Linked DNA regions of Homo sapiens: regions 1, 2, 3, 4, 5 and 7 are each linked to region 6. Evidence: fine-mapped expression QTL. A gene starts in region 6. Each other region holds a variant in brackets. All regions are shown on one strand. Distances are between the middles of the regions.

Region 1 (4,069 bases), 39 kb before region 6:
TTGAGACCAGCTTGGCCAACATGGTGAAACCCCGTCTGTATTAAAAATACAAAAATTAGCTGGACATGGTGGCAGGCGCCTATAATCCCAGCTACTTGGGAGGCTGAGGCAGGAGAATCGCTTGAACCTGGGAGGTGGAGGTTGCAGTGAGCCGAGCTGGTGCCATTGCACTCCAGCCTGGGTGACAACAGCAAAATGCTGTCTCAAAAAAAAAAAAAAAAATTGCCCTGAAGAAAATTGCCCTGGAGTCTTTTCTTCCCCATTCTCGATCTCCCTAAGGTTGGAAATTATCTTTTCAGGGCCTGGCATAAGGGCCTTCAGAAAACACGCGGTTGTCCGTTGATTGGAGATGTTTTAAATTTGTACAAAAGGCCAGGCGCGGTGGCTCATGCCTGTAATCCCAGCACTTTGGGAGGCCAAGGCGGGCGGATTGTCTGAGGTCAGGAGTTCGAGACCAGCCTGGCCAACATGGTGAAAACCCCTCTCTACTAAAAATACAAAAATTAGCCACGCATGGTGGCGGGTGCCTGTAATCCCACCTACTTGGGAGGCTGAGGCTCGAGAATTGCTTGAACCCGGGAGGCGGAGGTTGCAGTGAGCCAAGATCCCACCACTGCACTCCAGCCTGGGTGACAGAGCAAGACTTAGTCTCAAAAAAAAAAAAAAAAAAGTAAAAAAATTGCTCAAGTTGGGGATGTCAAGGTTCACATGGGAAATCGTGTCTATTTTTCATTTTAATTATTTGCATTGCAACATTGTAAATTTTGGGGAAAAAGTTTGACAGGTCCTTTCAAAACATTATTTACATGCAGTACCGCGTTTAGTGTTGCACAGTCTGTTGTCTCGTAGTAACCATATTTAGCACATAATGAAGTCGGATAGATTTTAATTGTTCCGTAGCAGTCATCATAAGGATATAACATTTATTGTGTGTTTACCATAAGACAAGCACTATCCTAAGCTTGAAAAAAAATCCACTCATTCAATGCCTCCCAAATCCCAGAAGGCAGCAATTGGTGTGGCATAGAAGTAGAGTTGCAGATTCTGCAAATGGTAGACTCAGTAAGTGCCCACCTAACCAGGAATGCAGTGCAGCAAAGGCTGTTGTGTGGCTTGGGACACGTCAGTTTCCTCACCCATGAAATGAGGGTGTTGGCTGAATTGCCCATCTGTGGAACTAAGCTAGGACTAAAGGGAACCATCTGCAAGAGCTTCATGTAACACAAGTGGTGTCAGTTATGCTGGTTACAAAAGGGCCCCTTTAAAAATACATGTTTGAAGTCGAATGATGAAGAATAATTAAAGTAAAACTAAAAATATATATCACTGTATTCATCCAGCAAGGCTGTTTGTTAGTATTAAGTACTGTCCTTATGTGGGCTTCTGTAATATTTAAACTGCATTTGAAGCCAGGCATTGTGGCACAGGCTTGTAGTTCCAGCTACTCAGGAGGCTGAGTTGGAAGGATCACTTGAGCCCAGGAGTCTGAGGCTACGGTGAGCTATGATCGCACCTCTGCACTCCAGCCTAGGTGACAGACAGATACCCTGTCTCTAAAAAAAAAAAAAAAAAACAGGAAGAAATAGGCCAGGCGCTGTGGCTCACACCTGTAATCCCAGCACTTTGGGAGGCCGAGGTGGGCGGATCACCTGAGGTCAGTAGTTCCAGACCAGCCTGGCCAACATGGTGAAACCCCGTCTCTACTAAAAATACAAAAATTAGCTGGGCATGGTGGTGGGCGCCTGTAATCCCAGCTACTCGGGAGGCTGAGGTGGGAGAATCTCTTGAACCCGGGAGGTGGAGGTTGCAGTGAGCTGATTGTGCCATTACACTCCAGCCTGGGCAATAGAGTGAGACTCC[G/A]CCTCAAAAAAAAATTAAGAAATAAAGAATAAAAATAAAAATAAACTGCATTGGAAACACACACAAAAAGACAGAAATAATAACTTCCCAAAGAAAAGCAACATTCGTCGCCTGACAGGCGATTTTGTTAGAGGTTGGATCTGCTGTGGGGACCTGGGAGTAAGTGGACAGAACACGGTGCTTCTCTTATCAGCAGAGAGTAGATCTTTAGCAGCAGTCACGCGGTGCTGAACACTAGCTTTTAAATTAGCTGCATTTTAAATAATATGGCTTAAAAATACACAACAATAAATCAGGAGATCATTGTAAATCACAGTCTCACATTACCAAGCTTCGTCTCTCCCTGGTGCAATGTATGATTAATCTTTCCGTTGCCAGGAAAGCGATGCTTCCTGTTGGAGAGATTGAGTGTGGATCTGAAAGTTCCCTCACCTTGGGTTCACTTGTTAGCACGGCTCCTGACCCAGCTGTCTGCTGCCTGTCTGAGGACAATGGAAACCTGCTGTCTTTCAGAGTGAAATTCTTATTGACATTCAAAGAGTAAACATCTACCAAGATACATTTGCTTATTTTGTCTTCTTCCTGGTGAGTTGGAAATACCTGGATTTTTGCCATAATAAAGGCATTTCTCAATGACAGACACTGTACCATCACTACATAGCAAGTTTTAACCCCCACACTGAGGAGTAAAATCTCCAGCATCCGCCTCTCTGGGGTTGGCTCTCAGGCAGTGGTAATTATCAGGATTTTATCCTAGAAAACAAGGCAAGTCTAACACACCGTTTCTCAATTAAGTTTCCTGAAAACCAATTTATTCTATTTGAGTAAATTATATATTTGATACTGAAATTACAGAAACATTTTACTGTTTCACTAGCGTACACTCACGGGTGCTTTGCAGAACAGCTGGTTGGGAATACTTATTGTAGAACTTTTCACAGCATTTATTGATCTGTCTGGCAAATGAATCCCTAGACAGGAACTGTCTATGGGTGACATTTTACGACCCCAGTATAGATCCAAAGCTTTTAATGTACCTTTCGCCTTTATCATAATGTCACCAAGAAAATCAGAGTGGGTAGGAATAGCCTTCTGACATCAAACGGCATGTTTAACTATGTTAAGATGGCTCTGACCTACTCAGCCTATACAGCTAAAGATTTTGGAATGGTTCTTTGCCAATCTGGTCCTATGGCCTCTAAAATTAAATAAGCAAGAGATGATCCTCCATCTTGATGATACAGGGCCATGGCTGAGTTCTCAGCAGGCCTCAAAGAGCAACTAAACCTACCGGTCAACCATTGTCAACAGAAACAGCAAAGTATTAGTTATGCCAACCAACATCAAAATAGGTATTCTTGTCAGACCAGTCCTGGCATCTAATTGATCATACAAAGCAACCCTGTTTAAGGGCTGAACTCACGATGTTGGTAATGTCAAGAAGTACTGGCCAGGCGAGGTGGCGCACGCCTGTAATCCAAGCACTTTGGGAGGCTGAGGTAGGAGGATTGCTTGAGGTCAGGTTACTTGGAAGCTACACTTAATGGGTTTATATTTTGGAGGGTACCAGATAGAAAACCAAAAAACTAGTTTGCTTCTCAAGAATTTAAAAACAGGGCTTTTGCTTTTAAAGTTATTAAACCTTCTCATGGATGTTGGAGAGCATTGTGATGGAGAGGCTGTAAACTGCACAAACTGATTGTTGTTTTGTTTTGTTTGAGATGGAGTTTTGCTCTTGTCGTCCAGGCTGGAGTGCATTGGCACGATCTCCACTCACTGCAACCTCCTTCTCCCAGGTTCAAGCGATTCTCCTGCCTCAACCTACCGAGTAGCTGGGATTACAGGCGCCTGCCATCATGCCCGGCTAATTTTTGTATTTTTAGTAGAGATGGGGTTTCACCATGTTGACCAGGCTGGTCTCAAACTCCTCACCTCAGGTGATCTTCCTGCCTTGGCCTTCCAAAGGGCTAGGATTACAGGCATGAGCCACTGCACCCAGCCCGTTTTCTTGTTTTGGAGTACAATTGTTCTGACAGTGGCTGTGGTTCCGCATATCTGTACACGTGTTAGAGTTCATAGAACTGTCATCTAAAAAAGTCATTTTTAACTGTATGATGTTTTACAGATAACACTTTAAAAATGCATTTAGGCTGGGTGCGGTGGCTCACACCTGTAATCCCAGCACTTCCCACTGGGAGAAGGGGAGGAA
Region 2 (4,069 bases), 110 kb after region 6:
CGTGTATGCTCTTAATGATTACTTGGGAGCAAAGGGAGAAATGTTTGACACTCTCTAGAGATGCTTATTTGTAGTTTTTTCATGGCTTAAAATAAAATAATTAATACCTGCTTTTATTTTCTGTTCTTTATTAGTACTTCTACCGATCTTCCCCTGATGACTGTGTATATGTTTGGTGCAATCTTGATGCCATGCTGAGCAAACCTTATTTTAATGTTACTGAGAGACCCTTTTTGTTAAGTGAAAACAATAGCTTGATATTTATTTTAAATGTTCTGTGAATGTAGAAGTTTTCCCAGGCTTCCTAATGGGTAGAGACATAGTGTATGAAGTGGTTTTTACATCCCTTACAGGAGGGCAAGATGTCCAGGCAAAACCTTGTTTAAATGTTCATCACCATAGAAACATGACAGCTTCTCCATAGAGCTTTTGTAAGTACATTGTAATTTTCACTTCATTGATGTGAATTAAATGTATAATTGACCAGCACAAAAATTCCAAGAAGCAATTATATCATAACCATTTGAGTGTAGTAGACTATCCATTTAGTTCCCATTTAAATCTAAAAGAAATCTGTGTGTCTACAAGTGTTTAGTCTTTACTAATCTATTTCATCGAATTTAACCTTTTATAATATTGAGGTTGTTGTAATTTCAAAAAATGCTGGTATGAAATAACGTGATTAATTCTATAGCTTACTCAAAACAACTCATGTTTCATTGGCAGAAAAGTACTTAATTTCAGTGGTGTTTCTAATATACTGACTGCTTATTATACTGCAATTTTAATCAGAAGGAAGGAGTTTCGCTAAAGTAATTTAAACTTAACGGGTTTTTTTGTGGGGGATGGCAGGATAAGTGTTCATACTGGGAAATAAAAATATTGTGAAGTTCATGAAATCCTGGTGATATATGACATAATCTAAGCATTCAAAACTAGGTGAAGGAAGTACAGTTATTGATTAATAAATAGAAGTTCTTATAGTCCTGTGATCTTGTATTCAGGAGACTTTTTTCACTAGAGGAACAATGAAGACCTTCTTCCTTGTTTACAGTGTTTTGCCACTTTGTTGTTTGAAGCGCATTTTAATAAGTTATTCTGACATCTGGTACATCTTTTAGCTCAGTATATGCAAGAATGGAGTTGATAGGAAGCTTCCCCTCGGGGCTTTCTAGCTCCTGATTCTGACCCTTAATGGAAAAATGAGCAGTCGGCATATTTTTTGCTTATATGCTGTGCTGCTGGTGATTAATGGTGGTGATAAAAGTGCTCACAATGCTTTTCATTACTTTGTAGTCAGAATGGCATCCAAAAGTCTAACAATCTCACACATGGCATGCCATAAAGGCTGTGTTCTTGAAGCTTGGTAATATTTTTATGATCTCAAGAAAGATAGTGATAACAGCTTATAGATTTTGAGTACTTGTATATTTACTAGTGGAAGCTGAATTAACAAATGAAATTTCTGACTATAGTCTCATCATCTCTCTTCTCTCTAGCTCAAAGTTTTTGAAGGTAAAAAATTTGCCACCTTGCATTTAATGAACATATTTATCTTTTTAAAAGGTTTATGTAAAGCTCACGCATGTGGTATTTAATTGATTTTAAGTTGGACAGGTTTTGTCTCATTTAATCACAGAAAGAAAATAAAATTAACAAAAGGGAAAACTTAACTATCCTAGCCTCCCAGTGGATTAAGTCAGAATAACAGCTCTTTCTTACTATATCAGTTATCTTAATATTTCATAGGACAAGCATAATCATATTAAATAATTTTGATGGCTTGTACCGTGGCAGCCTTTTCTATTAGTATTGTTGATTTACTCTTGTAATGTAGATCGATAACTAGAAATGAGCAGATTTCTTTTTGTGAGTTATTTACTGACTTTCAAAAGAAATATTGACTAATTTGAAATAACTTTTTGAACAATTTATATGATTGACTAC[A/G]GAGAGTTCTTTTGGCTAAATGTTTCTGAATGGACTGCTTAAACATGTGAGTATGTATTTCAGACAGTTCTTGTTATTATTTGTGTACCTATAATAGAAAAATCATCGTCTTGGATGGGTATGGTGGCAGTAGGAAAAGAAGGGATGAATTTGAGTTGTAATTACACAGTAGAATCAGAAGCACTTGGTGTTTGACTGGACCGAGGCTCAGGGTGTATGGTGGGGGTAGGGTATGGGGTTCAGCAGGAAAGGTAGGTGACAAGGGTGTTTCCAAAGTATCTGGCATAAACAACAAAGTGGGTAATGATGTCATGTTTTCAGGTATGTGATATTGAAGGAGGAGCAGAGATAGAGAATAAAATGATGAGTTTGGTCTTAGAATTAAGTTTAAGGTACTGGTGAGATGTCTAATGAAAGACGGCAGTTGGTGTATATGGTTCTTGGCCACAGCAGTAAGATTTGGACTAAAGATATAAACTTCAGAGTTGTTGGCTATTGGAAGAGGCAAGATCACTTAGGTAAAAACTGAGCAGTATATCTGTGAACCGTCTTCATCAGAATCAACTGAGTCACCACTTTGTGGTTGATGCTCAGGAACTGGCAGGCCCCTTGGTAATTATGATGCAGGTTGACATTTGAGAAGCACTGATATGACATGTGAGAAGATGAACATCTGAGATTGGGCCACAGGAGAAAAGGGATTCAAGGTATTTTCTTTTATAGAACGAAAGAATTAGAAATGGAAACAGTAGCTAAGGTGTAGAGGAGGGAAGGTGAGGGACTCACAGACCCCACTCAGCTGTGTCCTACTGAGGTAGAGGAAAGTCAATTGTAGTTGGAAGGAAGTAGAGGATGAGATTATAGATAAAAAAGAAAGGAAAACATTTTAAAAAATGTTGTGAAAGGCCAGGCGTGGTGACTGATGCCTGTAATCCCAGCACTTTGGGAGGCTGAGGTGGGCAGATCATGAGGTCAGGAGATCGAGACCATCCTGGTTAACACCGTGAAACCCCATCTCTACTAAAAATACAGAGATAATATTAGCTGGGCGTGGTGGCTGGCGCCTGTAGTCCCAACTACTCAGGAGGCTGAGGCGGGAGAGTGGCGTGAACCCAGGAAGCGGAGCTTGCGGTGAGCCGAGATCGTGCCACTGCGCTCCAGCCTGGGCGACAGGCGAGATTCCATCTCAAAACCAAAAAAAAAAAAAAAAGTTGTGAAAATTGCTAAAGTCAGCCAGAGATCAGTATAAAGATTGCCAAGTAGCATTGAAGGCCCACTTTGGAATGTCGTAGTAAAACTTTCTCATGATTGTATAATACAAAGTTTTTTTGACAGGGCTGGGAATCAAGGAGTAGGCGCCAGGGGATTGTTGAAGCTGGCCTGGTGGAAGCCAAAGGTTCAGGGAGCTCCAGAATATTGTTGATACTGGCTCATCATCAAAATTCACTAGTGAACCATGGGGTTGAGGCCAGGGAAGAGAAGACTGGTTGGAAGGATTAGGAGGGAACAAGGGAGTGAAGGTTCTGAGGATGTGGAGGCAGAGCTAGGCTAGGGCACTGAGGGGACAAGAAAAGACAGGAAATTGTGGACTAAGAGGGCAGTTTCAAAGTTGGAGTTCTTAGAGGTGATCCTGAGAGATGGTGGAATAGGATCAATGCATGTGTGGGTGGCTACTGTAGAATGGGAATGAATCTCACTGGAATTGAGGTGATGAGCTAGGATGTTACTTACGAGGGCAGGGGATGTGATAAGAAGTACTTGTGAACCAGGTGCTCATATCATGGAGAAAGATGGGACTGCTTCTTATAGGTTTGTAGATGGTCGGGAACAAAGTTGGGAAGAGAGTGATAGGATGGCATTAGAAGGTGGCATACATTTAATTTAGAAACACAAATGATATGTGAACTCCCAAGCCTTGGAAATTTCAGAGACAAAGGTAATAGTTTGAGTCATTATAGTGAACCATTACATTGTGTTTACTAAGAACCAGATATTGTCCTAAGCATATATATATATAAAATATATATAATTTACATATATAAAAATGTATAAAATATGTATAATTTACATATATAATATATATAACTCATATATATATAATACTCATTCGATCTTTATAACA
Region 3 (4,069 bases), 65 kb after region 6:
GGTAGTTGATAAAGAAAGATTTATTTGGCTCGCAGTTCTGCAGATGTACAAGCATGACACTGCCATCTGCTTGGCTTCTGGTGAGGCCGCAGGAAGCGTTTACTCATGGTGCAAGGTGAAGGGAGATCAGGATTGAAGAGAAGGTGCCAGGTTCCTTTAAACAACCAGCTCTCTTGTGAACTAACAGAATGAGAACTCACTCATTACTGTAGGGTCTGTCTGCTCCTACGATCCAGTACCTCCCATGAGGCCCCACCTCCAACACTGGGGGATCACATTTCAGCATGATATTTGGAGGGGACAGATATCCAAACCATATCACTGTTAGGAATAACACTGAAAATCCTAAGGAAATTGAACGCTCAAACAAAGAATTCTTAGTAAAGCAATTTTACTTCTGCGCAGAGGGGTGTCTCCTTGGCCAGTCGCCATGAGAGCACACCTGAATAAAGGGGCACGAGAGCCTTTATTCCTGACGCAAGTCCTGCCCCTGTATGCTTTCCCCGTTGGCTGGGGTCGGATTGTACAATCTAATCCCAGTTGGCTAAACGTTTGATTTTTTTTAGATAAGGTAGGCACGTAAAAGCGGAGAGGAAAGGGAAAGGGGCGTCTAATGAGCTAGAAAGTTCTCTTTCCAAATAAGGAATGTGAGCTGGTACTGATAACGCCTGGTACTGTGGTGTGCCTGGGCATCTAACAAAGGCAAAAAGGAAAAAGGAGGAAAAGGGAAAATTTGGGTGGGGCACCATGAATTAAAGAGTAAAAGATTGATCAGATTATTCGAAGAGAAACCTCATCATATCCCACATCACTGATGATGGGGGTTAAGAACAGGAGATGAGAGACTCATAAATCAAGGATCCTGGTCCTTGTTTGCTAACTGAAAGTATGTGAAAGCTTTGTGGAGTGTTAAAGTGATTTAAGGTGGTTTTATTGTTTTAATTATCATCACCTTGCAAAGACACTTTACAATATGATCTGTAGATATGGCTTTTTTTTACACTAGTTATATTCAGTGACTAGTTATATTCAGCATCTGAGTGTATGCCCTCATCACCTTATTTTATTTAGACAAAGGTTCTGTCTTCCTGGTTGGATTGAGGACCTAGTCACAAATGTCAGATATTTGGGGAAACACTTGTCTTACTACCACAATTAGAAAAGATGCATTACTCTGAAGATGTAATTTTTAAAAATAATGCTCCATTTCAGAAGGTGAAGTTGAGGAATGCTTCACAGGGCAAATGATGTTTAGGGTCTGTCTTGAAATTCATGTATGAGTTTGCCATGCAACTTAGAGGGTATTCTAGGGAGTGAGTAGACTGTGCAGAGGGGCAAGAAGGAACCCTGAAAATCCATTTCATGTTTGGGCTATGAGGGGGTTAGGTAAGTCTAAGTGTATGTCGAAATGGGTCATAGTGAGAGAAGAGCCTGGAAAATTATCTTGGGATAGCCGTGTGGGACCTGGAATGGTGAGATTTTGGATTTGATCTCAATTTTAGCATAGGAAGGAATGATAGCAATCAGGATAGCTTCCTCCCATGACTGGAGAAGCTTGCTGGAGACCGCTTGCTGGCTGGTCGCTGCCAGAGCTGGCTGCGGACCTGAGACAGCACTTGTCTGAGGGCTTTTCCCAGGAAATGCGGTGTCTATTGAGCAAAATGAATTCACAGAAATTCTGTATCTGATATCAGTTGTATTTTTCTTAAGTATCATATGGTCTGTATTTTAAAATTTATAATTGATTTACTAAACCAAGGAGGTTTCCTGGTTATTTTTGGCTTTTGAAGTAGGAATACACTTCTGTTGGTTGCCACAAGATGGCATTGGCCTCAAAGTTTCTCTGTTAGATGTGTTTTTGGGTATTTAGTATTTTTTTTTCCTGCTTTTAAAAAATATTTTCTTATATTTATTTTTACTTTCTTCCAATATTAACTTTAATAGAACTTTAATATCCATTCTATCTCTAATATTAGTGAAGTTCTTTTTTCCTTTGCCAATTTATCCTTTTAAAATCTTTTAAAAAGTTAGGTGTTTCTTGTAGAAAATAAAAATGTTTCAGAAATGTGTAACTGAGAAGGTGAAAGCACCTTATAATCCCTCTTTCCTATGGGATTGTTACATGTTATGCTGGATTTTTTTGTACCTCTGTATAAATA[T/C]GCATTTGGTGGGGGGAGAACATGTTTTACATTTATTGTCCATGCTTTTCTTCATTATTTTGTTGACTTATTTTAGATATTCTTCCATATTAGTACCTATTAAAGCTATCTTTTTTATGACAAAGTAGTGTTTTAAATATTAATAGTACAATACTGTTTAATAGTTTTCTGTTTTTTATTACTATAATTTATTTAATCTTTACCCATTAAAAAGATGTCAGGCCAATGGCTTTCTAAGTTTTTTTTCCTCTGAAATAAACATTTTAAATTAATTTGTTTTTTTATACTGCTTTCATAGTAATTTTTTCACCTCAGTTGTTGCATTGCTGTTAGCATATGTTGTCAAAGTTGTTAATTAAATGCAATTGTGAAATAAATACTTACATTTAAAAGAGGAATGAACTACAATTTTTTCTTTGTAAAATATGTGAAGTACTGTGTCTTCAGTATGTCTTTATCTTTTAGGTACTATTTGTTAGACTTACTGACCTTTTCATAGAGTAAGGAGTTTTAGAGTTTATCTAGTTTAACTTCTAGGCCCATATGTATATCATTTGTCTCCCAACTACATATATTTAATAAAGTTCTTAATATAATGCTTTTTTGATTAAAACATTAAAGAGTTTGCATTCTTTTTGATGACTTTCGTGTTCATTGCTTTTTCAGATCACTTGTGATGGTGACTCTCCTTTCTTCCAGGTTGTTTTTGAGCACGTTCACTCTCGCAGTGTCAGCTGGGGCTGTTTTGCTTTTACCCTTCTCAATCATCAGCAATGAAATCCTGCTTTCTTTTCCTCAGAACTACTATATTCAGTGGCTAAATGGCTCCCTGATTCATGGTTAGTATATATTGCTTAATATAATCACAATTAATATTTTAATTTTTTACTGCACCATATTTTTAGATTTTTCTTTTCTCAGTTTTCTTCATAATTTGTGACTTCCTCCAGTAAACGATTTGGGTCTTTAATAATGTCAGAAAACCAGATTTTACTTATCATTTCTATGTTTAATTAGTTGTGAAAGACTTTTCTCTTAGTTAAGAAGCAGTGTTTATACTTATGATTTTGATAAATACATTTTCATTTCAGTATTTAGCTAGAGTATTTTGGTTTATCTGACTATGTCAGAAGAACTCAACCTCCATTTAAGAACTAGAAAACTGGCCGGGCGTGGTGGCTCATGCTTGTAATCCCAGCACTTTGAGAGGTCGAGGTGGGTGGATCACCTGAGGTCAGGAGTTCGAGACCAGCCTGGCCAACATGGAGAAACCCTGTCTCTACTAAAAATATAAAAATTAGCCAGGCATGGTGGCACGCGCTTATAATCCCAGCTACTTGGGAGGCTGAGGCAGGAGAATCACTTGAACCTGGGAGGTGGAGATTGCAGTGAGCCGTGATCGCACCATTGCCCTCTGGCCTGGGCAAGAAGAGTGAAACTCCATCTCAAAAGAACTAAAAAACAGCAGCTATAGTTTCTATTTTATTTATTTGCTAGTAGTTTCTTTAGTCATTTCAAAATATAGAAGGGGAAAAACACTCTATGTCAAGTACAAATAGATATCATGGTGTATTGCTTTGTAGTCTTTGGGAAAGCCACTGTCCTCTCACCGCGGCTTCCTGTTGTCTTAGTTGGGATGATAAATAAAACCCAGCTTGTTTTTGCAATAGGAATGATGTATGTAAAGTAATTGTCTTTTAGTAGGCACTTAATAGGTGGTAGCTATTATGATAGTTATTTAGGCTGTGAGGTGTTTTCTTTCTGAAGAATCTTACTGTTTTTACAAATCAATTTAGTGTATGTAAACTGAACTCTTGTCTCTCATAGAACATGCTGGCATAATTCTTTTTTGAGTTCTAATTTATTTTTATTTTTTAATGTTTTAATTTTAATTTTTGTGAGTACATAGT
Region 4 (4,069 bases), 86 kb after region 6:
GGCGTATATGATAAACCTGAAGACAAACCAGAAATAGCCCAACAGAGATATAGTGAATAAGTAAACAAAGGAAATAAACTAGAATCATAAAAAATACTTAATCTGTGGGAACATAGAAGAAGGGAAGCTAACACATGGGGCAAATAGAAAACAAAAAGCAAGTTGATAGATTTAAAGCTAACTATATCAATAATCACTTTAAATGTAATGTTCTAAACACTACAACTAAAAGGCAGAGATTATCAAATTGAATATAAAAGCAAGACTGAAGTATATCTGCTTGCAGGATACCCACTGTAAAGACAAAACTAGGTCAATGGCAGTAGGAGAAAAAAGATACACCATGCTAATTTTAAACAGAGCAAAGTTGGAGTGGCTATATGATTATCAGACAAGGGCAAAGAATATTACCAGTCATAAAGAAGATCATTTCATCATGTTGAAGTGGTTTGTTCACCCAAAGAGCCTAATGATACTTAGCATATATCTGCCTAATGACATATATTAAGTACATGAAGCAAAAACGGAAAGTGTAGTCAGAATCACAATTACATTCAGATATTTCAACACCCTTCTTTCAATAATTGATAGAACATATAGAAGAAAAAATCACGATATAGAAGATTTGAATAATACTATCAACTGACTTGACCTAATTAACATTTATAGAACATCCAAGAATAGAATACATATTCTTTTCCAGTACAATGTGGGCATTTACCAAGAGAGATCACATTCTTTGCCATAAAATAAGTCTCAATACATTTTAGGATTTTAAGTCATACAAGATACACTCTGTAAGGACAATGAAATTAAATAAGTGTCAGAAAACTTACCTAGAAACAATCTAGAAGATCCCTGAGTATTTGGTAATTGATAACATACTTTACAATAACTCACTGGTCAAAGAATAATCAAAAGGGAAATTTGAAAGTGCTTTGAACTGAATGAAATGAAAATAAAACATTTTAATATTTGCGGGATGTGTCTAAAAAGTTTTTAAAGGTCAATGTATAGCACGAAATACCTGTATTACAACAGAAAAAAGGCCTCAAATCAGTTTCTGCAGAGTCAACGAATAGATCCCAAAGAAGGGAAATCTTTCTTTAAAAATCTTGAGAGAGGAAATCAATGAAATAGAAAACAGGAAATCACCAAGAAGAACACTGAAATTGATAAACAATGCCAGAATGATCAGCAAAAAAGAAGAGACCAATTGCCAGTATTAGGAATGAGAGAGGTGACATCACTACATATTGAACAGTGATTAAAAGGATAATAATTGCATATTATGAACACCTTTATCCAACAAATTCAACAACTTAGAGAAATGGACAAATTTCCTTAACAGGCAAAAACTATTAAAGCCTTCTCAAATATTCTGGGAATGTTAGAAACATTCTCACAAATAAAGCTTTAGGCCAGGAGGATTTACTGTCAGTTCTATCATATAGTTAAGGAAGAAATAATAGCAGTTCTGCACAGATTCTTCTAGAAAATTGAAGATGTGGGAACATTTCCTAATTCACTGAGGTCAGCATTACCCTCATACCAAAACCAGGCAGACAATACATGAAAACTGAAAGTTTCATGACAGGCCAGTGTCACGAACATAGATGCTTAAGTTCTAAATACAATTTTAGCGAATCAAATGTAACACTGTATAAAAATGATAATACATCATGACTTTTGCAATGCCAATCCATGTGATTTTATTAACGTGCTAGAAAAAAAAAAGTCATATGGTCGTAACAATACATGCAGAAAAAGCATATGACAAAATTCA[G/A]TATCCATTTCTGGTAAAATCTCTCAGCAAAGTAGGCCTGAAATGGGATGTTCTCATCCTAATAAAATGCATCAGGCTGGGCGTAGTGGCTCACGCCTGTAATCCCAGCACTTTGGGAGGCTGAGGCGGGTGGATCACCTGAGGTCAGGAGTTCGAGACCAGTCTGACCAATGTGGTGAAACCCTGTCCCTACTAAAAATATAAAACTTAACTGGGCATGGTGGTGTGCACCTGTAGTCCCAGCTATTCGGGAGGCTGAGACAGGAGAATTGCTTGAACCTGGGAGGTGGAGGTTGCAGTGAGCTGAGAAATCGCACCACTGCACTCCAGCCTGGGCGACAGAGTGAGACTCCGTCTCAAAAAAAAAAAAAAAAAAAAAAAAAAAAAGCATCTACAAAAAACCTACTGATAACATCATACTTAATGGTGAAAGACTGGATGCTTTCCCCCTGAGATCAGGAACAAGGCAAGGACATCTGTTCTTACCACTTCTATGTAACATCATTCTGGAGGTTTTTTTTAAAAAAAATAAGTCACTGAAGTTGGAAAGGAAACAGTAAAACTATTTCACAGATGATATTTTCTATGCGGAAATTCTGATGGGATCTGTTATAAAAAAGCTATTGGAACCAGTAAGTAAATTCTTCAAGGCTGCAGGATAGAAGATCAATATACAACAATTATATTTCTATATACTGGCAGTTAATAATTGGAAATTGAATTTACAACCCAATATCACTTATATGCAATAGCATCAAAAATACGAAATACTTAGGGATGCGTGAGACCTAAGTACTATAAACTAAGACATTGTTGAGAGAAATTAAAGAGTACCACAATAAGTGGAGACAGATACTGTGTTCATGGATTCGAAGACACTTTATCAGTTTGGGCTGCTATAACAATACCATAGACTGGGTGGCTTACAATACAAAACAAATATTTTTTACAGTTCTGGAGGCTGAAAGTCCCATATCAGGGTGCCACCATGGTTGGGTTCTTGATGAGGACCCTATTCTTGGCTCACGGATGGTTGTCTCCTCGCATCCTTCCATGGCTGAGAGCAGAGACAGAGAAAGCAAACTCTCTTCTGTCTCCTCCTATAGGGGCACCATCCCATCATGAGGATTGCCCTCTTGTGACCTAACTACCCCCAAGGGCTCCTGTCTCTAACGACCATCACACTGAGGATTAGGGTTTCAGTTATGAATTTGGGGGTGGGGACAGAAGCATTCAGTCTGTAACAGCAATATTAAGAGGTCAGCTCTCTTCAAATTGATAGAGATTCAACACCATGCCTGTCAAGATTCCAGCATACTTTGTAGAAATTGACAAGCTGATCTAAAATTCGGATGCAAATTCTATGGACTTAGAATAGCCTAAACAACTTTGAAAGATAACAAAGTTAGAGGATTGACCATCTGACCTAAAGACTCTTTTAAAGCTACAGTAATCAAGACTGTGTGGTGTGGCTGGGCACGGTGGCTTATGCCTGTAATCCCAGCGCTTTGGGAGGCCAAGGCAGGCAGATCACTTGAGGTCAGGAGTTCGAGACAAGCCTGACCAACATGGTGAAACCCTGTGTCTACTAAAAATACAAAAATTAGCCTGGTGTGGTGCATGCACCTGTAATCCCAGCTACTTGGGAGTCTGAGGCAGGAGAATCGCTTGAACCTGGGAGGCGGAGGTTGCAGTGAGCCGAGACGTGCCACTGCACTCCAGCCTGGATGACAGAGCAAGACTTTGTCTCAAAAAAAAAAAAAAAAAAAAGTGCATGATGTTAGCATAAAGATAAACAGATCAAATCAGCAGAATAGACTGTCCAGGATTAGATACATACATATATTGTCAATTGATTTTTGACAAAGGTGCCAAGGGAATTTAGTGGGAAGATGATTTTTTTTTAAACAAATGGTGCTAGAACAATTTTTTAATTATAGGCAAAAAATGAACTTCAGTCCATACCTGGCACCATTCGCAAACTGTAACTCAAGGGATCATCGACTTAAATGTAAATCCTAAAACTATGAAACTTGTAGAAGAAAATGTAGGAGAAAGTCTTTGTAACATTGAACTAGGCCATAATTTTTTAGGTAGGATAGCGAAAGCACAATCCATAAAAGAAAAAAATGGATAAATTGGACTTCTAATAAATTTTGTTCTTTAAAGATACTGTTAAGAGAATAAAGAGAGTCTACAGACTGGGAGAAAATATTGACAAATCACATACCTTATAAAGGAGTTGTATTCAGAGCCCATAAAGAACTTGTCAAACTCAGTAAT
Region 5 (4,069 bases), 180 kb after region 6:
CAGCACTTTGGGAGGCCAAGGCAGGCAGATCACGAGGTCGGGAGATCGAGAGCATCCTGGCTGACATGGTGAAACCCCGTCTCTACTAAAAAATACACAAAATTAGCCGGGCATGGTGGCGGGCGCCTGTAGTCCCAGCTACTCAGGAGATTGAGGCAGGAGAATGGCGTGAACCCGGGAGGTGGAGCTTGCAGTGAGCCAAGATCGCGCCACTGCACTCCAGCCTGGGTGACAGAGTGAGACTCCATCTCAAAAAAAAAAAAAAAAAAAAAAAAAATCAACCTTCTGAATTCTTTAACTGGCAATTCAGAGATTTCTTCTTGGTTTGGATCCATTGCTAGGGAGCTAGTGTGATCTTCTGGGAGTGTTATAGAACCCGGTTTTTTATATTGCCAGAATTACTTTTCTGGTTCCTTTTCATTTGGGTAGACTAGTTCATTGGGAAGGTCTGGAACCCAAGGCCTGCTGTTCAGATTCTTTTGTTCCACTGGGTGATCCCTTGATACAGTGTTCTCCCCCTTCACCTAGGGATGGGGCTTCCTGAGAGCCAGCCTGCAGTGATTGTTATTGTTCTTCTGGGCTTAACCACCCAGCAGGGCTACCAGGCTCTGGGATGGTGCGGGGGAATGCCTGCAAAGAGTCTTGTGATGTGGTCTGTCTTCGGGTCTCCCAGCTGTGGATACCAGCATCTGCTTTGGTGGAGTTGGCAGGGGAGTGATGGAGACTCTGTGAGAGTTCCTGGTTGTAGGTATGTTTAGTATGCTGGCTTTCTCAAATGCTGGTTATGCCAGGAGTGAAAGTGTCATGTGGACAGACTCAGGACCTCTGGTTAGCCAGGATGTTGCAGGCAGTGGAATTAGCTTTTGTTTTCTCCTTCCTGGGAGCAGGGTTATTCTGTCATGAGTTGCTGTAATGGCCTGATGTGGTTGGCCAGTTGGTTGGCCTCACTTTCAAGAGAGTTCCAGCTGCCATAGTAGTAGAGGTATCTAAGCTTGCCCCAAGTTGGCCAAGGTAAGTATTCTGGTTTCTCAGGTGATGGGTGGGGCCATAAAGCTCCCTAGACTTTATGTCTTTTGTGTTCAGCTGCCAGGGTAGGTAGAGAAATACCATCAGCTGGGGGCAAGGTCAGGTGGGTCTGGGTTCTGATTCTCCCTGGGCAGGGCTTGCTGCAGCCACCGTGGTTGTTGGGGGGTGGTTCTCAGGCCAATGGGGTTTTGTTCCAGAGGGGATCTTGGCCACCTGTGCTGTGTTATATAGTTTGCCAGGGAAGTTGGGGAGAGCCAGTAGTGAAAGGCCTCATCCAGCTCCCACACAGTTGGCAAGGCTGGTCTCTCTTCTGCAGTCCCTGCCGCAGACCTTGTCCCAGGCCGTAAGCTTCCCCGCTGAGAAAGCAAGCATGGCTTTCAGGCTTTGCCCTTCCCCATCTGCCCACACTGTCCGTGGTGGCTTCTGTGCTCTTATCTGCAGCAGTTCCCATTTGCACCCTGCCCCCCTACCAGATTCTGCTCAAGAAAATTTGCTCAAGAAATTCTGCTCAAGAAAATTTGTGCCCAAAGTTATTACAAATTTCAGTTGGAAGCTTCTTTCATCCTGTAACCCCACCCTAATTCCACTGGCTGCCTTCCCCAAGGTCCCCTGTGAGATATAGTCAGGGATGGCTTCCCTGGGCTTGAGCTGGAGACTGGGAGAGCCTACAGGGCTCTTCCTGCCACTGATGCTGCTTTTATTTTTTGTGTGGCTCCCTGAATCTATTTCAACTCTAAGTAAGGTTAAATCCTTTTCCCATTATCTGGATTTTCAGCTACCACAGTGAGGATGTGTGTTCAGAGGAAGGTTTTCCCCACCTCACACACTGGGAACTCAGTTTTTTGCCTGTGTCTCATGGAATTTGCAATGATATGCTGCTTCTTTCAAAGGATTCGTGAATTCTTTGTTTTCCTGGTACATCCTACAATGGTTCTTGGAGCAAAAGTTGATGGTGTGAGTCTCCGCGCACTGTTCTGTCCTTCCAAGTGGGAACTGCACATTAGTCCTGCCTCCTGTCTGCCGTCTTCCTCCAATTTTTTTTTTCTGGCTATTGTAAATGGGATTGCCTTCTTGATTTCCTTCTCAGCTAGATAGTAGTTTTTTTTTTTTTTT[A/TA]TATAGAAATGCAACTGGTTTTTGTACATTGATTTTGTATTCTGAAACTTTACTGAATTTATCAAATCCAAGAGCTTTTTTGTGGGGGGATCCATTAGGTTTTTCTAGAGATAAGATCATATCATGAACGAACAGGGATAACTTAACCTCCTCTTTACCAATTTGGGTGCCTTTTGTTTCTTTCTCTTGCCTGATTGTTCTGGCTAGAACTGTCAGTACTCTGTTGAATAGGAGTGGTGAAAATTGACATCCTTGTCTTTTTCCAGTTCTTATGATTTTTGGCTGTGGTACTGTTGTATATGATCTTTATTATTTTGAAGTATGCTCTTTGCATGCTTAATCTGTGGAGGGCTTTCGTCATGAAGGGATGCTGAAGTTATCACATGCTTTTTCTGCATCTTTGGAGATGATCATGTGGTTTTTGCCCTTAATTCTGTCAGTGTGATATATCACATTTACTGACTGTGTATGTTGAACCATCCTTACACTCCTGGTATAAAACCTGCCTGATCATGGTGTATTATCTTTTTGATGTGCTGTTGGATTCAGTTTGCTAATATTTCATTGAGAGTTTTTGCATCTGTGTTTATCAGGGATATTGGTCTGTAGTGTACTTGTCTGTTTGGGTATCAGAGTGATTTGGGCCTCATAGAATGACTTAGGAAGAATTCCCTCCGCCTCAGTTTTTGGGAACAGTTTCAGGAGGATTGGTATTAGTTCTTCTTTGTACATTTGGTAGAATTCAGCTGTGAATCCATCTGGTCCTGGGCTTTTCTTTGTTGAGAGATTTTTTTAATGGATTCAATCTTGCTACTCATCATTGGCCTGCTCGGGTTTTTTATTTCTTCCCGGTTCAATCTTGAGAGGTTGTATGTTTCTAGCCAGTAATTTATCCATTTCCTCTAGGTTTTCTATTTTGTGAATGTATAGTTGTTTATAATATTCTCTGATGATCTTTTGTATTTCTGTGGTATCGGTTGTAATGTTTACTTTTTCATTTCTGATTTTCTTTGTGTTGTCTCTTTTTTTTCCCTTGTTACTCTAGCAATTGGTTTATCAGTTTTATTTATTTTCTCGAAGAACCAACTTTTCATTTTCCTGATCCTTTGTACTGTTTTTTGGTTTTTATTTTATTGTTTTTTTTTTGGTTCTGCTCTGATCTTTGTTATTTCTTTTCTTCTACTGATTTTGGATTTGGTTTGTTACTTTTGTAGTTCCTTGAGGTATGACATTAGGTTGTTAATTTGTATCTTTCAGTATCTTTCATGTAGTCACTTGATGTCATAAACTTCCCTCCTAGCACTGTTTTTGCTGTATCTCGCAAGTTTCAGTATGTTGTGTTTCCATTTTCATTTGTTTCAAAAATTTTTTTTTTAATTTCTGACTTAATTTATTCTTTGACCCAATGGTCATTCAGAGGCATGTTGTTAATTTCTGTGTACTTGTATGTTTTCTGAAATTCTTCTTGGTATTGATTTCGTGATATTGATGCATGAAAATTTTTGATTTTTAAAAATTTGTTGAGACTTGTTTTGTGTTTTAACATATGGTTTATCTTGGAGAACGTTTTATGTGCTGATGAGTAGAACATAAATTCTGCAGTTGAGCAGAATATTCTGTAAATGTGTTTTAGGTCCGTTGCACCAAGTACAGTGTTTCTTTGCTGATTTTTTTTCTCGATAAGCTATGAATAGGGTGTTGAAGTCCACCACCATTATTTCATTGCTGTCTGCCTCTTTCTTTAGCTGTAGTAATATTTGTTTTATGAATCTTGGTGCTGTTGGCTGCATGTATATTTGGATGTATTGTTATATCCTCTTGCTGAATAGGTCCCTTTATCATTATATAATGACCTTTGTTGTCTTTTTTTTTTTTTAACTGTTTTTGATTTAAAGTCTGTTTTATCTGGTGTCAGTATAACTACTCCTGG
Region 6 (4,069 bases):
GGAGGAAGGACAAAGCCAGATGGCAGAGGGTGAGCGTATAGGGAGTGGTGAGTACGTGGCCATTGTTGAAGTTGACTACCCTGGGTTAAGTGTTACAAGTACCAGTGGTGGGTAAACCTCTAGGGATGATTGCATAAAAGAAAATCAAAAGGTCTAGATGGTTGGAGTATTGCATTAAAAAGATGAGGAATACTACATGCATTCACTTTCTGGAATCTGTGTTTAAATGCCATACACTTTAAAATCTAATCTGCTTGCCCTCTGATTTGGAGAGAATTAACCCAGAAATTATCCAGGTTCTTTAGGGCTCCAAGACATTCTAAAAAATAAAGGTGAACGTTGAATTTAACCAGTTGACAGTTGTTCTTGGATTATGATCAATCAGCCTGTGGCAGCAGGGCACATGCTGAGAACAAGCCTCAGGTTCTCTAAGTTCTCCCACCACCACAATGTTCAGCTATAGTGAACTCATAGAAACCGTGTGTCGGGGCCTCCAACTTCGCCAAGCACCATAAGAAGTTTGAGTTGTGAAAAAATTTTCTCTACTCAAAATTGTGAAGAGAAACGGCAAGGTTTAAATTACCACATATTTGTCTTTGAAGAACTTTACAACAACTTCATTGACTGTTAAATTTAGATTCATAAAAATCTAAACAACGGCCGGGCGCGGTGGCTCAGGCCTGTAATCCCAGCACTTTGGGAGGACGAGGTGGGCGGATCACCTGAGGTCAGGAGTTCAAGAACAGCTTGGCCAACGTGGTGAAACCCCGTCTCTACTAAAAATACAAAAATTAGCTGGGCGTGGTGGCGGGCGCCTGTAATCCCAGCTACTCGGGAGGCTGAGGCAGGAGAATCACTTGAACCCAAGAGGCAGAGGTTGTTGTGAGCAGAGATCGCCATTGCACTCCAGCCTGGGCGACAAGAGTGAAACTCTGTCTCAAAAAAAAAAAAAACAAAAACAAAAACTAAATGACATTTGAAAGCAATTTGTAGATTTTCACACTTCCTAAGAATTCTCAAAGATGCCAAAAACAAAAATCGCAGCCACTAGCAATTTAAATGACTTCCTCGTAGCCAAATAAATCCTAAGGTAAAATTATAAACATTCCCTTAAATTCAAATTTTATAACAAAAAGAAAGATAATAGGGAACGGAGGGTGAATTATTGTGTTTGATATATTTGGCGGTGAAAAATACATATATTACGTGCTGTTTAGGGTCCACTGAGAGTCATAAAACTGACCCTAGTGACCGAGCTACCGGAAGGACTTGGCAAGGGTCTAGCGAGCTCGGTTATCTGCGTTTTCCAGGTGGGGCAGCCCAAGACCCTTCTCAGACCCAGAGAAGCTGGGTTTCCGCCCAAAGCCCGGCCCCAAACCACCGATTTCCGACCTTTCAACCTACTTTGGCAGAGCAAGAGTTTCCGCGGGAGACTCCCTGCTTCCCTCTGCCCAGGTCCCCTGAGGCCGAGTGCGGTACTGAGTGCTGAGTAAGGGGTGCCGAGTGCCAAGCACTGAGTAACTGGGGGAGGGGAACCATGCAGCTGTCATAAATAATTAGCTCCTGTGAGGAACAGGAACTCCGAGACTGCGGCCGGGCCAGGTGGGCAGAGGTCGCAGCGCCCTCGCCGCGTTCCCCGTCCCCATCCGACGCCAGGACAGCGCCTCCTTAACTGGGGTAGCCCCTGAGAGCGTGGGCGGAGCCCCGCCCCGCGACCTCAAGGCCCCGCCCCCTCAGCGCCTCCCGGCCCAGCAGCTCGGAAGACCGCGAGGCGCGCTTTTCTGACGCATCGGCGCCTTTCGTCTGACGTATGCCTGCACCGCCCCCTCCCCTCCCTGCCCCGCCCCCGCCCCGCCCCCGACTGCGCGGCGCCCGCCCTCCCTTAGTCAGAGCTGCTCGTCTGAGGCTGCTGAGGCGACGGCCGGTGTCGTGGTCGCGGTACCTGTTCCAACACGGCTCGCGGGCCCGTGCCGGCTCCGGTCCCCGGCGCGGCTGTCCGAGCCCCTGCGGCGGGCGGACGATGGTGTGGCGGAGCACGCGGACGCGGGCGGCGCGGCGGCGGGCATGAAGGAGGATGGAAGGGCAGGACGAGGTGTCGGCGCGGGAGCAGCACTTCCACAGCCAAGTGCGGGAGTCCACGGTGCGTGGGGACCGAGGCAGCCCTGACAGTCCCGCGTGCCCGCCCGGGCCCTCCGTCCCCGCCCCCGGGCCCCCGGTCCCCGGACCCCTCACCTCCGGGCCTCGCCTCGCGCCTCCCGCCCCGGCCTCTGCCGCTCTCCCTCCCCACCCCTCCTCTCCCCTCCCCTCCCCTTCCCTCCCCACCTCTCCTCTCCCCTCCCCTCCCCTTCGCTTCCTCTGCCTGCCCCCCCGCTCCGCTCTTGCCTCCCCTGCCCCCTCGCGCTCCCTCCGTTCGAGCCCCGACCCCGCCCCCGCCCCGCGGCCTCGGTGCTGCCCTTCCCTTCCCGCGGGGAGGGCTGCGGTGCGCGCCGCGCTCTGGGACCCCAGGGGCTTCCTCTCTGGGCGGGTGTGCGGCTCGCGCCTCGGGGTGTGGACGGCGGCCCCGCCAGTGCGCGCCCCCGCGCTCCGCCGCCAGGCCAGGTAGGCAGGTGGATGCGCAGGCGTCCCGGAGAGCCTGGGTGGGCCCGGCGGGTCCGGGAAGGGCCGGGCTGCGCGGAGCCCGCCCGCCTCTCGCGTTTGGACCCGGCCGGTTACCTTGTCCCGGTCAACACCTCCTGCCCTCCTGGCGCCTCACGTTTCCATCCCTCTTTCATCTCCCCCAGCCCCCACGTGGGTTGAGTTCGAAACCTTACCGTTTGGGATGAGAATATTGGTTATTTTTGGGAGTGAGGACCTCAGCAAAAGTCCATTTTGCTATGGAAGCAACTTCTTAGGGAAGCAGCTTCTTTTTTGGCCCATGTTCCATGTGTGCTGTTGGCAGGAGTCAGGAAGCGGACTTGACCTTGGAAAGTCTACTTTGATGTTTTTATCTTTTCATGATGCTCTAGAATGTATTGTAATTGGGTTTATCTGTGTTTTCATAACTGTTGTAAAATATGTCAATTTTTTATGTTTATATTTACGCCTCTCCTAAGTTGTCTACGATTCAGTCACACTTGGTTTGAGGTGAAAAAATTCTGCTTTAGAATTATCTAATTTGTGTACTCACTGATCTTGAAAATTGAGAATCACTTTGGAAGTCATACTTTGAATAAAGAGGACATATAAAGTCTGAGCTGGTGGAATTTGAGTTAGTGGAATTTGGTACACATTTAGTTGTAATTTTTATAATTGAAGCTAAAATACACAGAGATAAGTTCATGTAATCATACATGTACCCTTCAGATCATTTCATACTAAACACGCCTGTGTACTCCTGAATCCACCAGGAGTTTGAGACTGGTCAGCCTGGGCAACATAGTGAATCCCCATCTCTACCATTATAAAAAAATAAATAAATAAACACAATTTTACTAGGATCCCAGAGACTGATTCCTTTCCCTCTTCCAATTACTTTCTCCTCCACCAAGGGTAAACGTTGCCCTGGCTTCTAATATCATAGATTAGTTTTTGCTTAGTTTTGAACTTTATGTAAATGGAATCTTACCGTATATACTCTTCTGTGTCCAGTTTCTTGTACAATGTTTGTGAAATTTCTCCATGTTGTATGTGGTTATAATTCATTCTCGGTGCAGTAGTTGTGTGACTATAGCACAATTTATTTTTCATTTTACTGTTGATGGGCACTTCAGTAGTTTCTAGGTTTTGGCTATGAATATATATATGTGTATATATATGTGTATGTATATATGTGTGTGTGTGTGTGTGTGTGTGTGTATATATATATATATATATATATTTTTTTTTTTTTTTTTTTTTTGTGATGGAGTCTCGCTCTGTCTCCCAGGCTGGAGTGCAGTGGCACAATCTCGGCTCACTGCAACCTCTGCCTCCGGGATTCAAGTGATTCTCCTACCTCAGCCTCCTGAATAGCTGGGATTACAGGCACACACCACCACACCCAGCTAATTTTTCTATTTTTATTAGAGACGGGGTTTCTCCATGCTGGCCA
Region 7 (4,069 bases), 210 kb after region 6:
CCACTTTCAGGCACATCCAAAGAGTTCCTAGATACTTGGAAAATGTCTGAAAATTTTTAAGTAAAATACTAAACTTTTCAGTGTTTAGCTCAACTTTTTGTTCATTTGGAAGTTTCTCTCCATCCGAGGACTTAAGCCAGTTTTGGATTTGTAAGCCCTGAGTACAATACACTTCCTGGAGGCATCCTCACTGCTGTTGAAGCAAAGGATATGCATGGGGTGGAAGGACGGCTTCGAACCTGGGACTCATATGCCTTGAGAACAAATAGATTGTTACAGCCTTGGGCTGCTGCGTAATCACGGTTCCTCGAGGCTCTTCCTGAGCACATGCCCAAGCATCTGCCTCTGGAGAGACTGACTCCAAATGCAGGTGCTTCCATTGGAGCTAGGTCGGAGGCTGCTTTATATGACGAACTCCAGAAATGGATGCCAGAATACGGAGGCCAAACGTTCTGAGTCCTGGTAAGGACAGTCGCTCTGGGGGTCCTCATTTTACTGCAGTTCCTGCACGCCAGTGAAAGAGAGGAGATAGACCCTGGAAGGCAGAGCTGCAGATGCTCATCATCAGGTCAATTCTGGAGCTACAGTTTTGTTTCTGACTGGATAGGGATGCACCAGTGACTGTCACATCAAGCAGTCCTTTTATTCTCTCTCCTTTAGTATCGATTTTAAAGGGCATTAGGCACTATGGTTCCAGAGTTTCTTGGGGAAAACTTGCAGATTCTTATTAATTGGTTCTGCAATACTTAAATAAATTATTTTACAATTATAAGTTTTCAGATTATAACATTTGTATTAATTTTTACTGATTTTCCAAGATACTTCTTAGATTTACTATTTACGTAGCTTTATGTACATTCTCTGTAAAAATAGACCTCTAAATATGAGGCTTTACATGAAATTTGTACACACATACACACTAATGTTAGCTCCTTAAATTGCTGCACTAAGGTGCTGGTTAGTAGAGATGGACGGAGCCTCTCGCGTTTTGCTCTCAGATGTGTTAAAGGCGCACGTGTACCTGCTCTCAGCGGCAGTGCGGCCTCCCCATCTGCTGGGTGCCCATGGCCCTCCCTGCAGCCTCAGTGATGACCTCGTCTGCCAGGGACACAGGTTTTCATCATTTACAGGCTCTTATGTGCTAGTTTTGTTGGTAGCACGTTATTTAATGCATAAAGGCAGAATTCTTACAAGTTTTTTTTTTTAATGTGAACATAGATGCAGCACCGACTTTTTAAACTTGAAAAAACTGGTATAATGTTAACTTTTAAAAATAACATTTGGACACACTAGTAATTGATTTTTGTTTACAGATTGTTTTGTTTACAAATTGTTAGTCTTTGTTTCTATGAGATACTTTTAGTGTGACTTTTTAAATGTCTTAGAAATTAAAAGTTGTACAAAAAGTGATTTCATATTTGGTTTATAAGCATTTATATGTGGGGTTTATTTGTTCTTTTGTTTTTTCCATCTTAAATATTATCATGGCTAAAACTTAAGGGTATTTATAGTTTAATTCCATTTCAGTTTTATAGAGGGCAGTAATTATTCTGATGAATGTTGAATTAAGAAATGGATATTTTCTTTCTCTGTTGTGCAGTTATTGGTAGATCAATTTCTTATAACCCACAATGTAGCATCAATAATTGATAGCATGTATTTTATTTAATTACTTGAATTATTTAGACTTGATTTCTCTAATTTTTTCCATAAAAGGACTGAACAGCACCTACTTGTGGTCTGGACAGCTTAACCCAGAGTTCCTGGAAGAATAAATGCTGTTAGCATCTGGTTAATTTACTGGCAGACAGAAGCCTACTTACAGTGGCTTTCAACTTTTTGACCACAGTAAGAAATAACCCATTACACACACACACACACACACACTCTCTCTCTCTCTCTCTCTCTCTCTCTGTCTCTCAGATACGTATAAGCAAAAATTTAACAAGACAGTACTTGTTTTTCCTAAGTGTGCATGCTGGCATCTTCTGTTTTATTATTTTTAAAAATACTAGACACAGACACTAAGTTACTTTGTGGCCTCCTAATAGATGGCAGACTTCAGTTTGAAAAGCATCCCTTTGGAATGTGGTTTAAAAGAAGAAATAATACAAAGACCTTTTTGGAGTTTTTTTTTTTTTTGGTTTTTGAATATTGTTTAGGTAAAAATTATTGCTGCAAACACAACTGAAGCAAAAGTACTGTGTACGCAAATTACTTGTTGCACTGTAGAAAATGTAATATCAGGAGAAGTTCCTAAAACTCACAAATATATACAAAATTTCAAAACTTGGTGATTGATCCATATGTCTTGAAGGAATATTAGGCAATAAACTTACCTTTTCAAGAGAAGTTATTTAACTTCCAATTCTGTGTTCTTTAATTAGGAAAAAATTTTTTCAAGGTTAACTATAATCAAATAGGAACTTCACACAAAACCTCATTATTCTTGGATATGGATTTGGTGTTCTGCTGTTACTTCTAAAGGTG[G/C]TACAGAAGTCAAGTTTATGAGCCTGGATTATGAACAGCAGGGCGGCCCTGATGTGAGTGGTTGTGGAGGACTAGAGTGATGTAGAAGAATCTGTTGTGTCTGAGTGTGAGGAGGTGGAGAGTCACGTGTGGGCTATGGGTCTGAGAACTGAAGTTTTAACAGTTACTAAAACTGTTTTGTGGCTGTTGTAATGTCTTCTCCTTTCCTTTCCTTTGAAAAGCTGTTACTGAATGAACGATGCCGCTTACAAACACTGACACTTCAGAACCAAGCATATTTGATACTGCTGTAGCTATTTATATTGATTCTGCAACTTCTCTTTAACAGCATCTTGAAGTCATCCACAGTTGTTCTATATGGACTCCACAGTAGAGTCAGAGAACTAAGTGACAAGTGGAGCATCGTCCTCCTCCTGCTCACTTCCTCCTCGCCACCTCTCTGGCCTGGCTATCCTTCAGTCTGAAGAGTGATTCACTTTTTCTTTTCTTTTTAGTCTTTACTGTGGAATCTCATCAAAGACTTGGAAGCAGGGGTGGTGAGAGGGGCCTGGGGCGTGGTGTGGAGGGTCGAGTTCTTTGTCGTCCCACAGTCACCCCCAGGACCACCTTGCGAAGCCGAAAATACACATCTGCATTTTACCGACAAGGAACGCCACTGAGAAAGCTGCAGACATTTGCCTGGGGTCACGCTTACAGTGGGCAGATGAACTGGATGTAAATACAGGCCAGTACAACCGCAGTCTCATTTTTTCTTTGTTTTAGGTTTTCAGTTTCTTGTTCATTCATGTACCTTACAGTTCTATTATCTGGTTGATAAAGATTCATGACAGGTATCCTCATTCTAGATTATAACCTTTATTCTTATCAAATGCCTCCAGTCCCACAATTCGCTAAGAATTCTCTTTCTGGACTTGATAGTGATTTAATGATTCCCCCCGCCCATGGAATGGTAGGCTCCTAATTAAGTGGATTTAAAGGCAAAAAGGGATGTGTGAGAAGGCACAAGAAGTGGCTTCATCTTGCAAGGTGACTGTCAGACAAGTGGGTTCCAACCTGTTAAAATAAGGGAGGAATGGCCACATCCCGTAGGGACTGCTGTAGCTGACCAGGAAGACACAATGAGGGCAGCAGACAGGGCTCTCCCTGTCCGCTGAGTCCTCCCATGAACTCATGTTTCCAAAGGCCCCACTCTTTCTTGGTCAGTGTCCCAGTTTTTATAGAAGAGACCTGATGAGGCTGTGGAGTAATTGTATAAAAGCTTGCACTGTTTTCCTGACTTGACCTGACAATGTGGCGTTATCTTCAAATTGTCCAGAGAAGTAGCTACTTCATTCAGGTCCTTTTTAGCGTTCTGTGGTTGCAACTTGGTCTCGCAAGCTTTCGATGGGCGCGCCATTCCATGGCCACTTTTCAGTAAGAAAATTGCCTGATTTTCTGTTAACTGTCACAGGCTGCCCTGGACCATTCCTCAGAACTCATGGGATTTTCGCGACCCTCATCCTCAGTGAAGTTAGATGACCATTCCTGCCTTTCATCCCACCGATTTTCCTAAGTATCTGTTGCCTGCAACTAACACTAG

Which allele goes with the higher level. Positions count from the first base shown, and alleles are read on the strand shown. Sizes are in standard deviations (SD) of each study's normalised expression. Not every link is listed here.
For the expression in pancreas of the gene that starts at base 1,885 in region 6, A is the low allele of the variant in region 4 and G is the other (moderate effect, 0.53 SD a copy in GTEx).
With allele TA in place of A in region 5, the expression in monocytes after Pam3CSK4 of the gene that starts at base 1,885 in region 6 is lower (moderate effect, 0.75 SD a copy in Quach 2016).

The links. PIP is the estimated chance that this variant, and not a neighbour inherited with it, causes the effect.
Region 1: its variant is the best candidate, but not a certain one, in a credible set for the expression of LMBR1 in lung (TOPMed, PIP 0.82).
Region 2: its variant is the best candidate, but not a certain one, in a credible set for the expression of LMBR1 in whole blood (INTERVAL, PIP 0.86).
Region 3: its variant is the best candidate, but not a certain one, in a credible set for the expression of LMBR1 in whole blood (INTERVAL, PIP 0.75).
Region 4: its variant is the best candidate, but not a certain one, in a credible set for the expression of LMBR1 in pancreas (GTEx, PIP 0.85).
Region 5: its variant is the best candidate, but not a certain one, in a credible set for the expression of LMBR1 in monocytes after Pam3CSK4 (Quach 2016, PIP 0.75).
Region 7: its variant is the best candidate, but not a certain one, in a credible set for the expression of LMBR1 in whole blood (TOPMed, PIP 0.68).

The regions. Positions count from the first base shown.
Region 1 is chr7:156,930,341-156,934,409 of GRCh38, reverse strand. No RefSeq gene overlaps it. Among named protein-coding and RNA genes, the nearest start is that of NOM1, 17 kb to the left of the region's middle. The variant G/A (reference allele first, on the strand shown) is at 1,861.
Region 2 is chr7:156,776,017-156,780,085 of GRCh38, reverse strand. All of the region lies in intron 5 of LMBR1 (limb development membrane protein 1), which reads left to right. Among named protein-coding and RNA genes, the nearest start is that of LMBR1, 120 kb to the left of the region's middle. The variant A/G (reference allele first, on the strand shown) is at 1,948.
Region 3 is chr7:156,825,534-156,829,602 of GRCh38, reverse strand. LMBR1 (limb development membrane protein 1) reads left to right here. Exons shown (of 17, transcript NM_022458.4): 4 at 2,859-2,998. Among named protein-coding and RNA genes, the nearest start is that of LMBR1, 66 kb to the left of the region's middle. The variant T/C (reference allele first, on the strand shown) is at 2,160.
Region 4 is chr7:156,804,703-156,808,771 of GRCh38, reverse strand. All of the region lies in intron 4 of LMBR1 (limb development membrane protein 1), which reads left to right. Among named protein-coding and RNA genes, the nearest start is that of LMBR1, 86 kb to the left of the region's middle. The variant G/A (reference allele first, on the strand shown) is at 1,787.
Region 5 is chr7:156,706,105-156,710,173 of GRCh38, reverse strand. The region is part of intron 15 of LMBR1 (limb development membrane protein 1); the gene reads left to right. Among named protein-coding and RNA genes, the nearest start is that of RNF32-AS1, 48 kb to the right of the region's middle. The variant A/TA (reference allele first, on the strand shown) is at 2,140.
Region 6 is chr7:156,890,999-156,895,067 of GRCh38, reverse strand. LMBR1 (limb development membrane protein 1) reads left to right here and starts at 1,885. Exons shown (of 17, transcript NM_022458.4): 1 at 1,885-2,140. The coding sequence starts at 2,075. It overlaps LOC102723795 (a long non-coding RNA gene), which reads right to left and starts at 1,670. Exons shown (of 4, transcript XR_928253.3): 1 at 1,405-1,670. RefSeq lists silencers at 1,664-2,243, 2,294-2,793.
Region 7 is chr7:156,678,222-156,682,290 of GRCh38, reverse strand. It overlaps LMBR1 (limb development membrane protein 1), which reads left to right. Exons shown (of 17, transcript NM_022458.4): 17 at 1-4,069. Among named protein-coding and RNA genes, the nearest start is that of RNF32-AS1, 20 kb to the right of the region's middle. The variant G/C (reference allele first, on the strand shown) is at 2,491.